Homo sapiens: one gene and its partner. The protein of the gene in region 2 purifies or fractionates together with the protein of the main gene of each other region. This does not show direct contact. Each region holds a gene or a part of one and is shown on either strand. Other genes may lie near its edges. The genes, in order: AGPAT3 and ATP13A3.

Region 1 (11,494 bases), on a different chromosome or scaffold from region 2:
CAAGGCATTTTCACATGTGCAGCCTCACAAACTGCTGAAGGAGAACAGACAAGGAGACAGGTGCACAGCCGAGAGCAGAGAAGGAAACTTGCCTGGGCCACACCCCCACGACCCAGCCTCCAAGCCCACGGCCACCCAGCACTTCCCACCGAGAAAGACCAGACTCCTCCTCCAGCACAGCCAGACACCCGCGGTCCCTTTTCACAGCTGAAATAAAATACTGTACAGCATCAATTGTGCTTTATACGGTATTCACAGGAGATGAAGCTTTACTCAGTCTTAGCATGTTGGATTTTTTTTTTTTTTTTTTTTTTTTTTGAGATAGAGTCTCACTCTGTTGTAGGCTGGAGTGCAGTGGCACAATCTCAGCGCACTGCAACCTCCACCTCCTGGGTTCAGGCAATTTTCATGTCTCAGCCTTCTGAGAAGCTGGGATTACAGGCACGCACTGCCACACCCAGCTAGTTTTTGTATTTTTAGTAGAGACAGGGTTTTGCTATGTTGGTCAGGCTGGTCTCGAACTCCTGACCTCGAGTGATCAGCCTGCCTCAGCCTCCCAAAGTGCTGGGATTACAGGCATGAGACACTGCAGCCAGTGGCATGTTGAATTTCAAAACTAGAAGACAAGCCAAGCGTGGTGGCTCACACCTGTAATCCTAGCACTTTAGGACCCGAGGTGGGCAGGTTGCTTGAGGCAAGGAGTTTGAGACCAGCCTGGCCAATATGGTGAAACCTCATCTCTACAAAAATTACAAAAATTAGCTAGGTGTGGTGGCGTGCAACTTCAATCCCAGCTACTCCAGAAGCTGAGGCACAAGAATCGCTTGAACCCGGGAGGTGGAGGTTGCAATGAGCCAAGATCGAGATTGCACCACTGCACTCCCGTCTGGGCAACAGAGTAAAACTCTGTGTCCAAAAAAAAAAAAAAAGACAAATGGAAATAAAAAACTATTAAACATCTACAACAGTGTCATTCTTTCAAATACTACTGGTGTGAGTAGAAACAGACGTGATCTTTGCAGAGGGTAAATCAGCAACAACGTGTCTAACGTCTTTGAAATGGCAAGACCCTTTACTCAGCAATCCACCTGTAGACTTTACCTTCAAGACATTGACTAGAGAAGAACTGTACAAGGATGCCCATCATATTTATAACTGGGAAAACGGAGCGGCATCAGTGTCCATTGACAGGGCTGGCCACAGCTGGCTGTGTCCACACAGCGGAGCCCAGTGCAGCCCTCCCTCGAGGGGGCAAATGGGAAGGTCAGCAGTGCAATGTGAACTGAAGCGGGCAGGCCGCAGAGACAGAGCCACGACGTGACTCCGTTGTGCATTAAGTGTGTGTGTGTATCTAACTCACACTCAGGATAGGAGCAGGCCACCTCGGCAAAGTGACATCCAGGTCGAAGTCACCAGGCAAAAGGAGAAAGTGTGTTCCAGGCAGGCTAAAGTCCAAGGCAGAGTGTGGCCAGTGGGGCAGCTTGAAGACCGGGTGTGGGGGTGCAGAGCGTGAGGTCGGGGGACACTGACATCAGCAGGCGTCATCACGGGTGGGGGCTGAGCAAGCAGTGGCGGGGAAAGCGCAGGGCCACTGAAAGGCTGCCTCTTGTTCTGTGGGGAACAAGTGTGATGGGATCTGAGCTGGAGCGACCCCACGCAAGACCACGGGCAGTCTCAGTCGAAAGCGAGGCTGGTGGTGGGGCAGGAGGCGGGCAAGGGGAATCGTGAGGGTCAAGGAGCCATAGATGGGGAAGGGGGTGTGGGAGATGGAGGAAGGGGGTCATAGATGGGGCCCAGGTTTCTGTCCTGGACACCAGTGGAGACAGAAGATAGAGGGGACAAGATGGTGATACCAGAACAACGATGGGAATGGGCCTGCTGGGAAGATATCCTCAGCCAGATCCCAAGAATAGCACCATTTCAGCCAGGCGCAGTGGCTCATGCCTGTAATCCCAGCACTTTGGAAAGCCAAGGCGGGCGGATCACCCGAGGTCGGGAGTTCAAGGCCAGCCTGACCAACAAGGAGAAACCCCGTCTCTATTAAAAATACAAAAAAATAGCAGGGCATGGTGGTGCATGCCTGTAATCCCGGCTACTCAGGAAGCTGAGGCAGGAGAATCACTTGAACCCGGGGGGCGGAAGTTGTGGTGAGCCAACATGGCACCATTGTACTCCAGACTGGGCAACAAGAGTGAATCTCAAAAAGAAAAAAAAAAGAATAGCACCATTTCAGGTGCTTCCTAGTCTTTTCCTTCACATTTATTTTCTACTTTTGAAACCTCACATGCCCTTTAACTATTACTGGCATATGCCATGTATATGTACAGCAGTTCTTCAGCTACCGAATACAAGTCATCTGAAGAAAGCCAATTGAAATGGCAACCTAGTCTGCCTGTGCTAAAGCAGCAGAAAGCATCTCAGGTGGGATGGGTGACAGGGAAGTCGACAAAAGGTTAAGTTTATAAGGACAAAATCTGAGTCACATTTTGCAATTGTTAAAACTGGTGGGCTGGGCATGGTGGCTCACACCTGTAATCCCAGCACTTCGGGAGGCCAAGGCAAGCGGATCCCCTGAGCTCAGGAGTTCAAGACCACCCTGGGTAACATGGTCAAATCCCATCTCTGCTAAAATACAAAAAATTAGCTGGGCGTGATGGCATGCACCTGTAGTCCCAGCTACTCAGGAGACTGAGGCACAAGAATCACTTGAGCCCTGGAGGCGGAGGTTGCAGTAAGCCAAGATCGTACCACTGCACTCCAGCTTGGGCAACAGAGTGAGACTTTGTCTCAAAAAAAAACAAATAAAACAAACAAAAAACAAAACAAAACAAAACAAAAACTGGTGAAAAGCATTTGATAATGACGTGCTCAGTGGGGAGGCTTCCCAGCTTTAAACACCCTGGAAATTACACGTTGTCCTCCACCAGGTAGTTTTAGAGTGAGAAAAAATTTCCCCCCAGACAGCCTGGTCATTTTGGTATATCTAATCTGTGACATTCCTTCTACTGTTCATTACGGTTTCACTCATCAGGATTTATGTAGATCCACCTCCACCATCAGCAATTTCTTCAATCTCAGATTTCTGCTGTAGGATCACTTTCCATCTAAGTCAATTATGTCTTTAGACATCCCCTTTGTGAGCCCAGGAAATCAGCCTAAAGTAATTCTAGATCAGTCCCACTCCTGGACTCCTGGTAGGAGCAGGGCTTCTCCAGGGAGGCTTTGCTCCCTTCAAGCCTTGCAGGAATCCACAGACAAAGCCCATGTGAAATGAGCCCACAATCCAAAATCACAAAGTGTGTGACAGGCAAGGATCAGGGAGCAAGAGGTAGCAGAACAAGTGGCGGAGTCCAACCCTCAAGAAATTCAAATTTTAGTATTTGTTAATATTATTATCGGTATTACTTTGGTATTATTAGTTACAGTATAGAAAATAAGTATGTTTAGACATAAAGAGAAAATAAAAATAAGTGTAAGGAAAAGAATACCAAACAAGAGGAGAGGCAAACTTGGAAAAAAACAAAGAGAACTTTCAGGAATGAAAAATATAACTATTAAAAAAATGAAAATTAAAAGAACAGGTTAGGCTGGGCATGGTGCCTGTAATCCCAGCACTTGGGAGGCTGAGGTGAGAGGATCACTTGACCTTGGGAGTTCAAGACCAGCCCTGGCAACATAGCAAGACCCCATCTCTACCAACAAAAAAAAAGAAAAAAGAAAAAGAACAACAATAACAGGTTAAATATTAATAGCGCAGAGGCTGGGCACGGTGGCTCACACCTGTAATCCCAGCACTTTGCGAGGCCAAGCCAGGTGGATCACCTGAGGTCAGGAATTTGAGACCAGCCTGGCCAAATGGGTGAAACCCCGTCTCTACTAGAAATACAAAAATTAGCCGGGCATGGTGGTGGGCACCTGTAATCCCAGCTACTCTTCAGGCTGAGGCAGGAGAATCACTTGAACCCAAGAGGCGGAGGTTGCAGTGAGCCAAGATTGCACCACTGCACTCCAGCCTGGGCAACAGAGCAAGACTCCATCTCAAAAAAAATGTATACCTATTTAAATAGCACAGTAGATGGAGATGAAGATAGAGTTGCTAAATTGGAAGACAGCTGAAGAAATAACCTGGAATGAAGCATAAAAAGACTGAAAGGTAAAAACATGAACGAGAGTTTAAGTGGCTGGGAGGATGGTATGAGAAAGCAAAGCATAAGGCAGATGCTGTATGGTTGACCCTCCATATCTAGGGGTTCCACATTTGTGGATTCAACCAACTGTGGATCAAAGATATTTGGGTGGAAAAATTCCTAAAAGCAAAACTTGAATTTGCTGCTCTCTACTATATTAAATCCACATTAATGAAGTTATATATAGGCATTGTATTAGATACTATAAGTAATCTAAAGATGATTTAAAAATACACGGGAGGGAGGCCGAGGAGGGCAGATCATGAGGTCAGAGTTCAAAACCAGCCTGGCCAATATGGTGAAACCCCTTCTCTACTAAAAATACAAAAATTACCCCAGGCGTGGTGGTGGGCGCCTGTAATTCCAGTTACTCAGGAGGCTGAGGCTGGAGAATTGCTTGAACCTGGGAGGCGGAGGTTACAGTGAGCCAAGATCGTGCCACTGCACTCCAGCTTGGGCGACTGAGTGAGACTCCATCTCAAAAACAAAGAAAAAAATACATATATGGGAGAATGTGCACAGGTTATATACAAATACGACACCATTTTATATCAGGAACTTAAGCATCCACTAATTTTGGTATCCATGGTGGGTTCTGGAACCAATCCCTAGTGGATACCGCAGAATGACTGTATTGAACAAAATAATGGCTGAAAATTTTCCAGAATTGCTGAAAGACATGATACTTTATCTTCAGAAAGTACAATGAATCCAAAACAGGATAAACAAAAAGAAATCCATGCTAGAAAGACCACAGTCAAGTTGAAAAACACCAGAAATAAAGAGACTATAAAAGCAGCCAGACAAAAAGCTTACTACTGACACAGGAAGGACAATTGAAATGACAGCTGGCTTCCTAACCGCAACTTTATAAGCCAGAAGATACATAATAGAATTCAATCCTTAAAGAAATGCCAGAGACTCAGTGCTATACAGACTATATCCCTCTGCCCATGAGGCTTTTCAGCTGAAATCATAATAAAAACAACCTAAAATCCTCAATGCCTTTGGACATAAATGCATTCATGGGTCATGGAAGAATAATAAAATTGTAAAATGCTGAACAATGAAAATATTACATATCAAAATAAACAAGACGACAGTACAGCAGAACTAAGTAGGAAAGCTACATAGACTTAAATGCTTATGACAGGACCGGGCGTGGTGGCTCATGCCTGTAATCCCAGCACTCGGGGAAGCCGAGGTGGGCGGATTGCCTGAGGTCAGGAGTTCAAGACCAGCCTGGCCAACATGGTGAAACCCTGTCTCTACTAAAAATACAATAGTTAGCCAGGCATGGTGGCACACGCCTATAATCCCAGCTACTCAGGTGGCTGAGGCAGGAGAACCACTTGAATCCGGGAGGCGGAGGTTGCAGTGAGCCGAGATCACGCCAGCCTGCGTGACAGAGGGAGACTCTGTCTCAAAAAATAATAATAAAATACTTATGACAGAAAGTTGAAAATTAAGAAACTAAGCTTAGAGAAAATAGAAAAGAAAATGTTTCAATTCAGTAACCTAGAAAGAGAACACCAGAATAAACCCAAAGAGTGTAGAAGGAAATCCTGACAATGAGCAGAAATTAGTGATACGGAAACAAAGACACAGTGGAGAAAATGAGTAAGACTGATAGCTGGTTCTTTGTGAACACTAATAAAAAAGATGAGCCTCTGTGAGATGAATCTAGAAAAGAAAGGTAAAACCATTTTAGGAATGAAAAGGGTGATTTACTGTCAGATATAGTAGAGATTTAAAAATTAAGAAAATATTCTGACCTTTGTATCAAGAAACTGACAACTTGGGCTGGGCGCAGTGGCTCACGCCTGTAATCCCAGCATTTTAGAAGGCCAAGGTGGGAGGATCACCTGAGGTCAGGAGTTCGAGACCAGCCTGGCCAACATGGTGAAACCCCGTCTCTACTGAAAATGCAAAAATTAGCCAGGCGTGGTGGTGCGCGCCTGTAATCCCAGCTACTCGGGAGGCTGAGGCAGGAGAATCGCTTGAACCCGGGAGGCAGAGGATGCAGAAGCCCTGTGTTCTCCTTCCAGGTACTAGAGCCGGAGTCCTCAGGGCACATGGGTTTTGCTGGTGCGCGTGCTTTACCTTGATGAAGTCAGGTGCTGCATACACTTCTGCGGCTCACTCCTTCCACCCAGCGTTATCCTCCGGAGGCGCACACATGTTGCGGCCTGGAGGAGCTCCTTCCTTCCCCTTTCCATGGCGAATGTAGCACGAGGTTATTTTTCATTTTATTTGGAGACAGGCATTGAGAGAGCTCCCGGGGTCTGACTCCAACACCCATGCCACTATGAGCACCTCAGCATGTCCCCCGGGAAGCACACGGCAGGTGCACCCGCCACTCGATGCCATCTCCCTGCAGCTCCTGCCATTCCCAAAGCAGCCACGCTGGCACCAGTGCTCTGTCTGCCCCCACATCTTCTCCAGCACTTGTCCCCACAGTCTTTTAAGTTTCGCCGTCCCGGCAGGGGGAGGCCGCAGCTCTCTGTGGTTTTGTTTCTGCGTCTTCCCGGTGACCCATGACAGTGGATCTTCCATCTCTCCAGCTCCTTGCTTTTGGGTCACTTTGTTTGTATTTCTCACACCAGGCCTCCTCTGCTTCAAGGAGGCAGAGTGGGACGATTCAGAACTAAACGGCCACTGTTTGTACCCACACCGGAAGGCAGCATGGTAGAAGCATTTCCCTAAAATCAGGAACAGGACAAGGATGGCCTGTCACACTTCCATACAGCCCTGCTCAGGAGGGCCTGGCCCAGGCAGCAAAACAGGAAGGAAAAATACGAAAGATATAAGGAAGAAACAGAGTCTTCACCACTCCCACATGACGTGAATGTCTACTGAGAAAATCCCCAAAATCTACAAATAAATTTTAAGCAATGGCAAGGTGATCAGCTGTTAAATCAATACCCAAAAGTCAACTGCATTTCTACAGAACACCAGCAAAGACTTAGAAATCAATAAAAATAAAAAACACCATTTACGGCCGGCGCGGTGGCTCACGCCTGTAATTCCAACACTTTGGGAGGCCGAGGTGGGTGGATCACTTGAGGTCAGGAGTTCGAGACCAGCCTGGCCAACATGGTGAAACCCTGTCTCTACTAAAAATACAAAAATTAGCTAGGCATGGTGGCGTATGCCTGTAATCTCAGCTACTCGGGAGGCTGAAGCAGGAAAATCACTTGAACCCGGGAGGCAGAGGTTGCAGTGAACTGAGATCCTGCCACTGCACTCCAGCCTGGGTGACAGAGCAAGATTTTGTCTCAAAAGAAAAAAAAAAAAAAACACCATTTACAAAAGCAAGAACAATAATAAGGGCACCTGGGAATAAATGTAAGCACAGAGTGTCAGGTGGAATGTGAAATACCACGGTGCTTTATCAAAAGACACCTCGGAAGACCTGCACAGTCAACTCTAGAGAGATAAAGGGCTTAAGCAGAGAAAGCAAACTTTACAACTTCTACAGAAAAATACAGAATACATTTGTGACCCAAGAATTGGGAAGAACTTAAAGTAACATGCAAAAGGCACTACCTAGAAAAGAAGGATGGATAAAATTATACATTACATTAAAACTATCTTTTCACCAAAACAAAAAAAGTGAAAAGATAAAACCCAACTGGGAAAAATATATAATGCACACATTACAGCCAAAGATGAACATCCTGAATCTATAAGGAAATATATAATATGGAAACTATATATAAGGAATAGGTGAGAAAAAGACATCACCCAAAAGAAAAATGGATGAAGCACATGAACAGGAACTTCACAGGGAAGGACACACATAACCAATAAATATGCAGGATGCTCACTTTCATCCAGCAGGCAGGCGTAAATCAAGACCACAACTGCACAACACTTTGCATCTACCAGCTTTGCGAAAATCAACAGCAATGCCAAGTGCTGACGGGTATGTGGATCACGTGTGTCCAGAGACATGGACATAGAACATTCCATGTAAACAGGTCAAGATTAGAAGTGCTTCTGGTAAATGTATGGATGCATTCTGAAAACATTATTTTTTGCAGGCTTTATCTTTGCATAGATCTTACGGGAGGGTCTCCCGTAGGCCCTTAAAGACACGTGGAGTTACGTTGTTTTTCCAATTGATGCTTATTCTCTTAGTACCATCTTCTCCTTTCCTCTAAGCATCATCAGAGAACGCTGTTTCCAGCAGCCATCCCTGAGACAGAGGCAATGATTCTTTTGGTTTCATCTGCACATAAATTCTTGGGATTTTTCCCCCTCTCTTCCTGCATTTTGGAAATGCGTGTTTTGTCCTCATTTAATTAGTTCAGTTACTTTGTTTCAAGAAATAAATACTGTAGCCCAGAGACTGTAAAAACAGTAGCCCCAGTTGAATTCAGTTGGCAACATTTGTAATTTGGCGTGTGCAGTTTGTTAAAAATAAATACATTGCATATAAAACTCCAGATACCTGGTTTCTCTCGGAAGACTAAAGATGGAGTCACTCTGGTCCTATACCCACCTGGCCCTGCTCAGCTGGGGGTCAGTAGCGGGTGGTCAGGTGAGCCAGACCCTGTGAAAGAGGCCTCAGTCTCTCACTCATGTTCACCACAGCCACCCCTTCATAGGCCTCATGTCTGCATTCTCACTTACCTTCCTAGCTGGACCCTGTCAGAATCTGTGTTTACGATTTTCCTGTATAGCTTTGTTCACCAAAAAGAAACATTATATACTGAATAATTCACTAACATTTATTTATTTGTTTATTTATTGAGATGGAGTCTGGCTCTGTCACCCAGGCTGGAGTGCAGTGGCACGATCTCAGCTCACTGCAAGGTCCGCCTCCCAGGTTCAAGGCATTCTCCTTCCTCAGTGTCCCGAGTAGCTGGGACCTATGCATGCGCCACCACACCTGGTTAATTTTTGGGTTTTTTTTTTTTTTTAAGTAGAGATGGGGTTTCATCATGTTGGCCAGTCTGGTCTCGAACTCCTGACCTCAAGTGATCCACGTGCCTCAGCCTCCCAAAGTGCTGGCATTACAGGTGTGAACCACCACCCGGGGACCCAATAATTCACTAACATTTAAAGAAAAGAAGTAAAAGTTACAAAGGCTTTGGGGCTCCAGGAAAATGCAATGCTAGCCTGGAGCTGGAACTGAACTGCACGACAAACATATTTTCTAACCAATGTTCTAGAACTTAAGTCATAGTAATAAGCTCCTGATTTAGAAAACTGAAAATAACCTGTGTGCACTGAAACACGTGTGTCCTGATCGCTGTAGTGCATTTGAAAATTCCCAGAACACCAGCACTTCGCCTCCCTGCACCAGCTCACTGCCAGCCACGGCAGGGAGTCCAAGGAGGACGGCTGTGGTTCGCTTCCTAAAACTAATCCAAAATCCCGCCCGCCCGTGCCGCATAATGAGTCACAGTTGGGATTGTCTTTACTGTTCCTTTTGTTTTTGTGGATTATCAAAAGTCACTAAACTTAGCCACGTGTGGTGGCAGCACCTGTAGTCCCAGTTACTGGGGAGGCCAAGGTGGGAGGATCGCTTGAGCCCAATAGTTTGAGTCCAGCCTGGGCAACACAGTGAGGCCCCACCTCTAAAATACATGCATAAAATTTTAAGTCCCTAAACTTTGTTTCTGAGGCCGCCATGGAGCTCTGCCAGAGAAAGCCGCTTCAAGGTGACAGGTGAGGAGACAGGTGAGCCACAGCCTCCTTGCTGAGACACCTTCGGGACCCCTTCAGGGGTAATGACCAAAGCGGGTACTCACGCAGGGCCACCCTGGGGGTCCACTTGGCACTGGGCTGGCTGTGCCTAACTCAGGGCTGGGTCTGAGGCTCCTCCTCCCCAGCACTGCTCCCTCCGCCTCCTCTCACGGGGGTCAGACCTGCCTGGAGGTCTGGTGCTCCCCCACCATCCTCTGCAGGGTTTCTTCCTGCACTTCCCATCTCATCGTGGCACCTGCTTCCCAAACTGACAAGTGCATAACCCAAACTGACGCGGTCTTCCTCTAACAATCTGACTTCTGTCTATTTTGGCAAAAATCAATGCTAGTACACCATATTTTACAAAGTATAACAACTGGTTAATTTCTCAATGCAAAAATTATGTGTAGCTCCCTAATAAAATGCACATTTGTTCACTCAATCAATCACTCCAATTAGACTAGGACAATGGCCTAAATCAGAAATCAATCTATGAAAAGCTTAACCCAATCATCAGCACATTCTTCACATGAGGAGTCAATAAACAGCTCTTCATTTTACTCCCACCAAGTGTACCGTAAAAAGCTGAGCATAGATGAATTTACGTCAATTGAATTAATTTTCTTCTTGATTCCATATCCAGCATGTATCTGTTTCTATCAATTCAGATGGAGATTTCAGAGCCCCCAGTCCAGCAAGTACGGCCTTCTACAAGTGAAAAGTGTTTAAATGAATACGTGTATGTGAAGCCAATGACTTAGTCTCCGTTTCAGAAATGTAGATTTTCATCTATTGGATCTTATGAGCATCAAGGTGGTTTGGTGGAAAGAATAACAGCTTTGGATTCTATTGGACCTTTGTTTAAATCTAGATTTGCCCAAGCTGAGACGCTGGCCACACTTCCCCACTCAGTTTCCCATGTCAGTGTCTCTGTCAGTTTCTGTGTGATGGGGCAATACCACTCTCCTTACAGGGATGTAGAGGAGCTTATAAAATAATAAGGTAAGCATGTCATAAAGCAGGTGACAGATTTAGTGTCAGGTCAGCTAATAGGACATGAGGAAGAGAACAAGAGCCAGCGTGGCTGCAGCGCCGGTACTCAGCTCCCAGCACCTGGCTGAGAATCAGGAGGGCAGACAGTCAGGGGTGAGTAATCGATCTCAGGACAGGTATTTCCTTGTACAGCTTGTTACTGCTGCTCATTTTATAATTCATCATTATTGTTATTTATTATGCATTTCATTCTCTACCCGCTTTCAGAAAGGAATCGAGACCATCTCCAACAATGATGCATAGCCTTCCCAGTCACTGGGGACAGGCCTCTGGGCTGCAGGCACACTGTCCCACCAAGAGCACCCAGCTCCACTTTGAGTCTTAAGTGACACAGGGCACGCTAGCCAGGAGGTAGATTTCTGCCAGTCACACACTGAAGGATAGTTGTGTTGCTTTCAATTCACCACCAGTAACATTTAAAACATATCCTATCTGCAATCCTTCTACCTAGGCTTGGGAAAAGACGTGGCCAATTTAACCCCAGCATCCATGCACCCTAATAGCCAGGTACAGACTTTGGCCCTGCAGAAAGAATGGCCAACTTTCACCATCAACTC
Region 2 (11,494 bases):
TTGTTTTTTCTTACTGATAGCAAACCTAAAAATAATTTTTTTCATTACTTCTGTATGGTTCACTTCAGAATTACTGTGCAATTTGAAACAAAGCAAAATTAGTTTTCCTCATGATCTACATACACTACAGAATGATTCATATTTCACTCTTCCAGATTCTGATTTGAAAAATCCAACCACAAAGAAGCACAAAATCACTAGGAAGCTATTCTGTACAAAAAGTAAAATCCTGCAAATGTATAAATGTAACTCATAGGTACTTGGGTCAACTTTAAGTTACATGAATTTGGGTTTTTCTACTTGAGTCCTTTGTCTAATCTGAAACCTACCCACGCTAACCCAGCATAGACAATGCAAAGGCCGTAACATTTACATTCAACAAATACTTCAAAAATACAGTAATATAAGTTGCTATTGAAGAAGTTAATCACCTTATTCACAGCACAACCATCATAAAAATGTTAACTTTCTAACCTCCTATGACTGTCCTGTATGCCACTATCCAGGATTTAAAAAAAACCACATACACACACACACGCACACAGACACACCCCACAATCAATGTATTTAGGCACTATAACAACCACAATAGTGACGCCTGTATGGGAATATTTAGTTTACACAACACTTTGATGGGCATTATCTACTCTTACTTACCAGAATACTGCCTTTCAAAACCAGGAAAAAATCATCTTCACTTAACCAAGATTAGTATTTTTCATTTTCACCAGAAAGTCAAGCATGGGGTGACTTTACATCAAAAAGCCTTACCAACAAATTTAAGGAATGACACGTAGGCAGCACCATCTTTCAAGGAACAAAATTCATTTAAAAACCAATTCTTACTCCACATGTACTTGAAATGCATTTCTCCATAAGGAAAATAGTGTCTAGATTCCTAAGATAGCCCACAAATGCCCATTTTACCTCTTACAACTCTGCTGAGCTGCAGTTCACATTACACTAGCCTGGGTTGCTGGGCAGGTAGCCAGGTTACCAAGCCTCCATTTCCTCTGCCCGCTTCTTAATTTTCCTATTAATATTCCTCAGGCTCTTCTCTTTGTAACAATCTCATCAGGGGTGGCACTACTGGACCATCGCGATGGCAACTACCAATTCACATTTTCAGCACTAATCTCTCATGTGCTTCAGACCCACAGATTCAACTACATGTTTGCAGACAGCTAACACTCAATAGGTTCATTTTCTCTTTCTTCCAAAAAATCTGCCCCACCACCCAGCCACCACCAATTCCCCCTACTCCTTTAATGAGTATGAGTTGCCTAAAAAGCCAAGCCAGGAATTTAGAAGTCACCTTCGAACTCTTCCTATCTCACACCTACATCCAACCGGCCACTCATCTTTTGACTACCCTTCTCAAATCCACCTCACCATGCCTATCTCCATCAGCTTTGCCTTGATTCAGGTCCTGAGCCCTCGTCTCCCTCATTCAAGTCTGTATGCAGCCAGATATGACCATTTCCCTCTCTACATAAAACTTCAGTAGCTTCCCGTTGTCTGTAGTAGCAATTCCCAAACTGGTAAAAGAGTACCTTCAAAGTAAGTTGTTGTTTTTTTTTTTTTTCAAAACAATTAAATTGAACTAGATTAAATAATATTAAGCAGGCCTCTCACTAGCAAAGTTTTGAAGTCTTACAACGCACAACATGATGTATTTCCCTGCCATGAGGAACTGGGGCGGAAGGGAGCCTCAACTGGGTTCCAAGGTCAAAGTCAAAACTGATTGCAAGACATGTAAGATCCTACAGACTCTGGCCCCGCCTAGTTGTCAACACCATCTGCCATTCATCAGTGGTTATCACTCGCCCCTTACAAACCTTACATGTCATTCATTTAGAACACAATCTGTAGTTCTTCAAAGAGCCCTACTGTTCCCTGACTCCACTTCTTTATATAGAATATTCCTTCTGCCAAGAATGCCCTTCTCTTAGTCTGGCTAAAGAGCTCCTACTTGCTCTTCCAGGACCAGCTCAAGCTACTAAGCTTTGATTGTCCCTTCCATCTCCTAGCAGAGGACTGCCCCCACCTTTCTCCCACCTCTGCAGGTATCAGAGCACTTTTCCAACAACGTTGAACTTATAGACTAAAAACCTTAAAGGCTGGGAACCAGGCAAGCATCCAGCAGTGCAGCTGAATAAAGGAGACAGGGCAAGACTGGGTGAAGGAGGGGTGGAATCCCTCTTCTTTTTGTGGGCAAAATTTGACAACAAAGTAATTTTGTCTTTGGCATGCTCCCGCATCTCATCCCTATTCCCCTTTCCCAGCTCTCCCAATATCCTGTGTTCCCAGGTCCCTTAGTGACCTCATGGAACTCTACACAACCTCCACCACAGCACTATGTTCTTCAGATCAACCCTTCCTCTTCCTCTTAATCAGGATCCTTCTGTTCAGAAGTTAACACATAAATTAGTGACAGCTTCTCATAGCTGTTAACCTAAGATGAATCACTAAGAAACAAAATTTTAAAAGAAGTATGGAGAGGATATGGGGAGTGGACACTCTATCGCACAGAAAGACTGGCCCAGAAGCATCTAGGAGTCTCTTCCTGACTGGGCCCCCCAGAAGTGTTTCCACCTCACTTCATCCACTCCTACAGATTAGCTGCAGTGAGTGCTACAGGTAGAGACAGAGCTGGGGCAGACACTACCATCCTACAGATCATCCATTCTTCTTGGGTTGAATACCTCTGTGTCTTTGTTTTAGTTTGAGACCACTTATGGTTAATTCTTCAGCAGACAGAAAGTTCTCACCAACATGTTCACCAATGAACTTAAAACAGTGTCTTCACTCTAGCCAAGCAGTTCCCTGAAATCTAACCCCAAACTACTGCTTGACTAGAAAAAGGTAAATTAAATCAGAAAACCAAGATGTTGTCAAGTATCCTAATTTTTCAGATAAATCTGTAAATATTAAATTAGCATTCTAGCAATAATCATTCTGGTTTATTGCCAATTTGATTTCATAAAAACTCATTTGTTAGAATGGTATTGCCTACCATGTGCCAACTAGTGGTCTAAATGCTGGAGGTTACAAGATTAAATTTCTAACCTTAAGGAACCACATCTAGTAGGCTAGACAAATAAGTAAGCAAACAAATATCAAACAAAATGGTGACCAATGGCACCAGGGAGAAAGAGAGAACCAAGAACAGAAAAGACTTCAAAAAAGAACTATCTCTTGATCTAAGACCAGAAGGATGTAAACTTGATCAAGCAAACAAGCAGTAAGAGGAAAAATGTTAGGGAGAAAATAGAGAGATGAAACCCAAGCAGGGGAACTGCCACATGCAGAGGTACTATAGTGAGAGATCCTAAAAAATGCCAGGAAAACAAGTTATTTAAACTGACTGGTGCACGGGGTGATAGCCTTTGAGGAATAATTACAAATGGAGGTTTAGAAGGATAGGACAGGATCAGATTATAAGGAAGGGTCTTGTTAGACATGATAAACAATACAGATTATCTTGTAGGTGATGGAGATTCTGAACTTTTGTCACCTGAAAGAGATCCTAGGCCAGGCCAAGGAGCCATATTCCTGAAGAATACAACGTGAATGGTATCCTCTGGACTTGTGCAATGCAACAGCACAGTGTTTACCTGCTGGACTGTGTATGTGTAAGAGAGAAGAACTCATTCATCGATGTCTCCCCAGCATCCAGCCCTGTGTTTGGCATGTACAGGAACTAAAACACTATTAAATAGTTAGAAGTACCAACACAGTCCTAAAGGCATAACCAAGAGGCCCTAACCAAGCCCCCTTCCTTGCTACCTATAAAATCACAACTCTTATACACTACAATAACTTATCATTGCCACAACTATTAAGGGAACATGAAGAATAGTGAGTCACTATGGGCCGCACCAGAGATTAGAAAGGATTGGGGCGGGGGGTACTCTTTAAGATGCTTCTGAATCTGACTAAATTAATGAGCTTATTCTATTCTCTTCATCAAACACTGAACAGAAAACCATGGGTTAGCTTAAAATTATTCTTCAACTAACTCTAAGGCAGTGCTGACAATTATGAAAAGTACATTTTCATATCAAAAAGACCCATTAAATATTTCAATTAAGCGTGTGCTAGGTTAGTCTAGTCTTTCAAGTAAGTGCTACAGACAAAATTATGTCATTTGCCTATTGTACTTTACATTTTACTTAGTATACTAATCTACTTATTATAATTAGCATTAAATAGGTTTCTATCTTTTGTGCTTAGGAAAATTAGAAACATAAACATTAAAAAAAGGAGAAACAAGGAAACTACAGATGAAAATTGTAAATGAGCTTAGAAAACTGGTGACTTAAGAAGCTAAGGCATGATCTAGAGATGAATGAAAAATCTTTGGTCTAAAAAAATAAAGTAAAATAAAATAAAATTTAAAAAAAAGAAAAATCTTCGGTCTATAAGGAACCAGTGACTAGGATTCCATGTTTAAAGAAATCTAAAGGTCACAAAATTGAAATATAATTCAAAGTCTTCTTTAAAAAAAAAGTAGAAATATTTGACTAATCAGAATTTTTAAATGAAAATAATGCATATAAAGTCCTATAAAATAAATACAATTACAGATAGTTTTAAATTTTATAAGGTGGTCAGAGACAGAGACATTGGGTAACAGTAACAAGATGGGAGAGAAAACAGACTGCAAACACACCAGAGACACAAAGAGAAAAACTAAAATATACATAAAATGTATATCGGAGATACATGAGGTTAACATCTTGAGCTTTTGAGGATGTTGCTACTAAAGATACAAAATCATAGATTGTTTTGGACATAAAAAGCCTGAATATAACATTATTGCCTGCTGTTCCAGTTAACAAAAAAACAAAGAGCAATCATCAATCACACCCCACACACACATCTGACTTGTTTTGAATATCTTCAATGTTACTAAGTTAACAAATAATAAGTTACCCTTCACTCAGACTCTTATCCTTACAATTCTCTAAGGTACCCTTTATCACCTCTATCTGGCAAATAAAAAAGCTCTCAGAGGTTCAGTGACTTACTTAACCCAGACTACAAGACTGGTATGTGACAGAGCTGTAATTCAAAATCACTATGGCTCTGAAGCCCACATTTTTATCCAATACACCATGCCCTCTCCCAGGACATAAGACTGTTAAGTTTTTAGCCACCATCATGTTTTTACATACTCATGTTTTCTTACTGTGCTATCCCCAGAGTAATACTTAAGTTTAGATACTTTAAATTTCATGGAATCCATTAATAATTTACATCGCTCTTTTAAAACAATGCAGATCTTGCTAGCAGTAAGGAATAAATTTATTCTTTAAAAAAACAAAACAAAAACACTCAAAGTAGTTGAGTATCCCCTCAGAATGACAGACAGTACCAATAATCTCCTAATATTCTCAACTTTATTACCTAGCCTTTTAATTATACTAGATCTTTTTGTGGCATAACCTTACGGAGATAGCAGATGTTCATAAATACCTAAGTTATTTCTCCATTATTCACACTGTGGAGTCACATCATATATGCACTTAATTAAAACCAATTCAACTACTTACACTCTGGGGGGAAGCAACAGAGAAAAATAATTTGAATAATGATGATAGTATGCCTTCCTTTACATCCCTGTCCCAGAGTGAGCATGAAATGAAGACTATAAATCCGCTATGCTCAGTCAATCTAAGACCCATTCACCTGTCAAAACGGTCTCACACAGCTGGTGAGGATTCCAGCTCACCAAAAAAGGGACCTCTCTAAAACTACAGGAAAAACTGGACACTAGAATTGAAAGACAGAATGTCAGTTTCCAACCAGTTTTCAAACTGGTGCCTTTTTAAAAGACTTTTTCCAAGGGTAATTTTGACTACACAGGATTTTTATCTGAGAATTTAGGCCCAAAGGCCCCATGAGCAGTGATTGCACTTTATTCAGCTCTTTAGATCAATCAGAAAAAAATCAGGACCCAAAACACTTGTCTTTTATATCAAAATAAATAACTAAAATATATTTCATCCTATTTCACAAATGGAAAAAAAAAAAAACAGAGCAACAGGGATGCTATGAAGAAACCACCCTTAGACACATATGTGGGAGCAATTCCATGACTCATTTTAAACAAACTAAAAATAGTTTGTTTCAAGAAGTCTGTCAAGCAAGCAAAGGCAACCCTTAAAAGTTGGCTCTCACTGGAAAAAAAAAATGCAAAAGTTTTGAGATGTGCCATTACTACAGAGTACAAAATTAAAGCAAGGGTGAAAGGAACACCCAAGCTAGAGAAAGGATCTGGGGTTAGACCATAAAGGATCCTTTATGCTGTCACTTACTTCACTTTCCTCTTCTCTAAAAAGGCACTAATCTAAATAATCCATGATCTCTCCGCATTATTTTCCAGTCTCACACCTCTTTATTTCAATGTTCAACTCCTTTGTGAAAAAAAAATAAGAAAAACTCACTGAGCTAGAACCATCTTTCACCTTACCACCCAACATCAGTTACAAGTATTTTTACTTCAAACTTGAGAAAGATTCTGTAGACATCAGCAATTTCCAGACCACATAATTAGGAAATTCTACTTTACATACTTAAGTGACTTTTTCTGGAAATTTAATTTCTTATCTAACTAGTCTCTGAGTGTCAATTGATCATTTAAAACCAAGATCCACAGGGAGTAAGTGTAAGAATCAACAAAAAAGACAAAATTCTGATTAACAGATTAATTTTGCGGTCTTGACGTTTACTATTCGAGTTAATGTTTTACCATCTCAGACTCTAGCAAAGGTTCCAATATGACCCTGTGGGTCTAAGATGTTAACAGATATGGTATTGGCATAGTTCCCTCTAGAGAATCATTTTATGGAAACTTTTCAGCAATCACCATCCTCAAACAACCTTCCTCAGTGTCAGACACTTATTTGGACAGTTCTCTCCTTTATTCCGTTTTTCTCCCTTCTTACTGATTACCATAAAGTCATTTTTTAAACTATCATAACAGTGATCATTTTTTCCAATTACCATTTACTCATGTCATCTCATTTTACCTCTATTTTTAACCTGATTAATACAAATTATTTTTGGTTGTTTTAAGACAAAGTCTTGCTTTGTCACTCAGGCTGGTCTCAAACTCCTGGCCTCAAGCCATCCTCCTGCCTTGGCCTCCCAAAGCACTGGGATTTCAAGCATGAGTCACTGTGCATAACCTACTAACACAAATCGTTTTAACTCCTTTTATAATCACTAGTTATCTAGTGATAACTGATTAACTGTGGACCTTCTTCTACCTTACAAATATCTACTTTTCTCCAGATTAATTTGAGCCCAGAACTTTTTCATTTTTTTAAACCTAAATCTTAATTAAAATTATGTGCCAGAAATCTGAGCCTCTCTTACTTCTCTACTCTCAAAATATGATGTTCAACAAAACTCAAACGAGAACCTAACAATTTCCTTGCTTCTTGCATGCTATTTGAACTTAAGTGGTTAATTAGAACATGGTTTTGGCTGGGCAAGGTGGCTCATGTCTGTAATTCCTACACTTTGGGAGGCTGAGGCAGGAGGATCACTTGAGGCCAGGAGTTCTGAGACAAGCCTGGGCAACAAACCGAGATACTCATCTCTACAAAAAAATTTTAAAGGCCGGGCGTGGTGGCTCACGCCTGTAATCCCAGCAGTCTGGAAGGCCGAGGCAGGCGGATCACAAGGTCAGGAGTTCAAGATCAGACTGGTCAACATGGTGAAACCCAGTCTCTACTAAAGATACAAAAAATTAGCCAGGCATGGTGGTGGGCACCTGTAATCCCAGCTACTCGGAAAGCTGAGGCAGGAGAATCGCTTGAACCCAGGAGGCGGAAGTTGCAGTGAGCGGAGATCGCGCCTCTGCACTCCAGCCAGGATGACAGTACAAGACTCCGTCTCAAAAAAAAAAAAAAAATTTTTTTTTAAATTAGCCAGACATGATGGCACACACCCGTTGTCCCAACTACCCTTGTTGCTGAGGCAGGAAGGTCGCCTGAGCCCAGGAACTCAAGGCTGCAGTGAGCCATGATCGTGCCACTACACTCTAGCCTGAGTGAGAGAGCGAGACTCTTTCTCTGGGGGGAAAAAAAAAGAAAAAAGGACGGGGTGCAGTGATAAATGCCTGTAACCCTAACACTTTGGGAGGCCAAGGCAGGCAGACTGCTTCAGTTCAGGAGTTTGAGACCAGCCTGGGCAACACGGTGAAAACCCACCTCTACAAAAAAAAAAAAAACTAGCTGGGTGTGATGGTGCACACCTGTGGTCCCAGCTACTCTGGAAGCTGAGGTGGGAGGACTGCTTGAGCCCAGAAGGTCAAGGCTGCAGTGAGCCATGACAGAGCCACTGCACTCCAGCCTGGGAGACAGAGCAAGACCCTATCTCAAAAAAACTCAACATGGTTTTGACGACTACAGATTTACTCTCTCCATAGGCCAATTAGCTTCATTTTCACAAAAACTATGTTCCAAAACCAAGGCTAAATCCCATCAGCTACCTCTTGGATCCAGATGAGATATGGCATATTCAGAATACATTCAGAGGTAACACCAAGAAGAAATTTAATTTCTAATTTCTTCTGGCTACTCCAGGCACACTGCCTATCGAGCAGCCCTGTTCTGCAAGAAGCAGTATTAAAAAATGTTTTTAAAACTTTAAAAAATAAGAAATGTGATTCTAAGGAGGGAGAGAGAAGGGAGAAAAGGATGAGTACAACATATCTAAGAGTTAAACTGAGCTATATTTGAATGGATGATAAATGGAATAGGAGTTGGCAGCTTATCACCTATCAAAGAAAACAGTCAAAACAGTTCACAGTTGTGTGCTAAAAGAAGGTGATCTAGTGTGTGACACCTATTAAGATGACATATCTGATTTATCACCAGAATCTGAGGTTCAGAGATGTTATGTTGCCTAGTCACATACAACTAACCTTATAAACCCAGAGACAGAAACCTCTGTGTTAAGCACATTAACACAGAGCTAGGTTTCTGTCTGTCTTCAAAGTCGCTTATACTGTAAGCTCCTTAACTTCTTTAATTTTTTTTTTAACAAAGAAGAATATTGTTACCTGAAAGTGTTGAGGATTAGTTGAGACCATATGTAAAGAAAGGAGCACTTTTCCTGGCACATAATGGTTTCTTTCCTTCTTCCATTCCATATATTGAATCAAACTATGCTTGTATAACGTGGTGGTTTTGTAACTACTGTGAATATGAGGTTTTAGAATATGAATATGCTTTATTCCTAAGATAAATAGTAATCTTAGGACATAGGCACTATATCATATTACTATGGATATACAACCTACTCAATGGTCAAACTCAGTGAGAATAAGCAGTGATGGGGACGCCCTATGGAACTTTATCTTTATTCTGTCTTTTTTCTCAGTCTCAGTGATGTTGGAAATAAGAACTTTATACTTGTGAATGACAACAAAGTGGTTTATAATCTCGAAAATCTTGAAGACAGAAATAGGATTTCAAAATGAGCTCGATAATGTGGTTTATCCAAAGCGGATTCTGTGTGTTGTATATTTGGTGACCTAAACTAACTATGTAAGTATCAACCGCCAAGCTCGGTGGCTAGCGCCTGTAATACCAGCACTTTGGGAGGCCTAGGCAGGAAGATCACCTGAAGTCAGTAGTTCACGACCAGCCTGGCCAACGTGGTGAAACCCTGTCTCTACTAAAAATACAAAAAATTAGCTGGGCGTGGTGGCACACACCTGAAATCCCAGCTACTTAGGAGGCTGCGACAGGAGAATCGCTGAAACCCAGGAGGCAGAAGTTACAGTGAGCCGAGTTCACACCACTGCACTCCAGCCTGGGCAACAGAGCAAGATGCCATCTCAAAAAAAAAAAAAAAAATTTAAAGCAACCAAATAGTGTCACTTTTCCTACCCAATCCCCTGACCAAAGCCAGGCATTGTTGTTCTAACAAGGCTCAAAATCTCAATTATTTCACTCTCTGCCTGATCTAATGGTAGGATAATGCAAATCAAAGATACCAGCAAAAGTTATGTTCTACAACAATCATTAATAATAGGTTTACTACTTCGAACAACTTCCAAGCACTGATTTGCCTTAAAGGGGTTGCAAACCAGGATGAGATGCCCACACACATTGATTTTTGGCAACTGTAGTCTATTAAGCAAAGCAACAAACCTCTAGAGAAAATAATGTCACATATATTCCAGTGAAACAAAATTAATACATGTACCTTGGTAAAGAGGCTGAGCTCTAACCAAAGATAGAGCACTGTTCATTACGTACTCACCCTTCAAAGGAATCAAATCGAAACACTTTCATTTTAACAACGATACTTTTTAAAGGCTTTATTTTGCAATAATCTTTCAAGTCCCTGCATTTCTTAGATTCCTTAAATTCTAACTTCCTGCCTCATAGATCTAAAGTAGCCATGACATACCCAGGTATGTTCTACTCATTTAGTTAGAATCGTATAGAGGAACACAAGTCTGTTTCTAGGTGTACGACTCCACACCCATTCATTTTGCACTAATATAACCACTAAATATAGCTCTAAGACACTGATGATTAAAAGCGGCTAATTATGTGAGTGATTCATACCTCCTATGTCCAAACACCAAGATTCAGGGATGTCTGTCAGATCTATGGGAAGAGGAAACAATAAACACCTGTCACAAAGCTTCTTCCACACCGGGAAGCCCCCAGCTGAGTTCCTGCCAATCCCAACCCGATTCCCTCCCCCTTCATCCCTACCCCTCACCTCCCCAAAAAAGCCAGAGGTCATACTTCCACCAGAACCTGACTCTGTGAAGGGAATGGAGAGACAGAAAGGCCATAGCGAGAGTGGCCACGAGAGCACTGCTAGGGCAAAGGGCCCTGGGTTTTTCTAGTCCTCACTGCCACAGAGTCCGAGTGGGAGGCCTCAGGCAAGTCAGAAGTCACTTTTCCTCCACGGGACTCACTCCTTTTATCTGTGAAATGCGGAGATGGCAAGCAGCTCCATACTCCACGGCTGAGGACGAGCTAGGGTCCCGCACAGACTCATCGAGGGCCCTGCCAGCACCCCTACGCCTCTGCCCACAGGACCTCCACCTCCCACAGGACTTTCCGAAAGCTCTGACTACCAACCACCAAGCGCCCGGCCCCCACGCTCGCCCCCGGCAGGCGGCGCGTCCCCCCCAGGCCTTCGCACCCACCGCGTGGGCTCCTGCCCTGGCCTCACCTGCCCCCGACACTCCCCGTCCCCGCGATGCCCAACTCCGGCCCGAGAAGGCTGGCCGCGACCTCGCCCGGTACCCGCCGCCCCGACACCACCATTCGCCTCCTCGACCTCCCCCGGCGCCGCTGCCCACCCGCCCCTCGCCCCGCTCACCGGGGCCGCTCACTGGCCGCCGCCGCGCCGCCTCCTCCGCGGCCTCCCTCGCGGCCGGACCAGCCCCAGGGACCGCGGGGGACCCGGCCGCCGCTGTCGCCGCCGCCGCCTCGCCTCAGCCCAG

Evidence for each region.
Region 1: the proteins of ATP13A3 (region 2) and AGPAT3 purify together in Homo sapiens (co-immunoprecipitation; 2 studies listed by BioGRID and IntAct, with this or other methods). This does not show direct contact.

The regions. Positions count from the first base shown.
Region 1 is NC_000021.9:43,868,172-43,879,665, reverse strand, and holds part of AGPAT3 (1-acyl-sn-glycerol-3-phosphate acyltransferase gamma), read right to left. Parts: intron 1-11,494. UniProt on the Homo sapiens protein: Converts 1-acyl-sn-glycerol-3-phosphate (lysophosphatidic acid or LPA) into 1,2-diacyl-sn-glycerol-3-phosphate (phosphatidic acid or PA) by incorporating an acyl moiety at the sn-2 position of the glycerol backbone.
Region 2 is NC_000003.12:194,475,196-194,486,689, forward strand, and holds part of ATP13A3 (polyamine-transporting ATPase 13A3), read right to left. Parts: 5' UTR 11,371-11,494; intron 11,353-11,370; exon of another isoform or gene 11,221-11,352; intron 11,042-11,220; exon of another isoform or gene 10,759-11,041; intron 10,641-10,758; 5' UTR 10,599-10,640; intron 7,904-10,598; exon of another isoform or gene 7,787-7,903; intron 1-7,786. UniProt on the Homo sapiens protein: ATP-driven pump involved in endocytosis-dependent polyamine transport. Uses ATP as an energy source to transfer polyamine precursor putrescine from the endosomal compartment to the cytosol.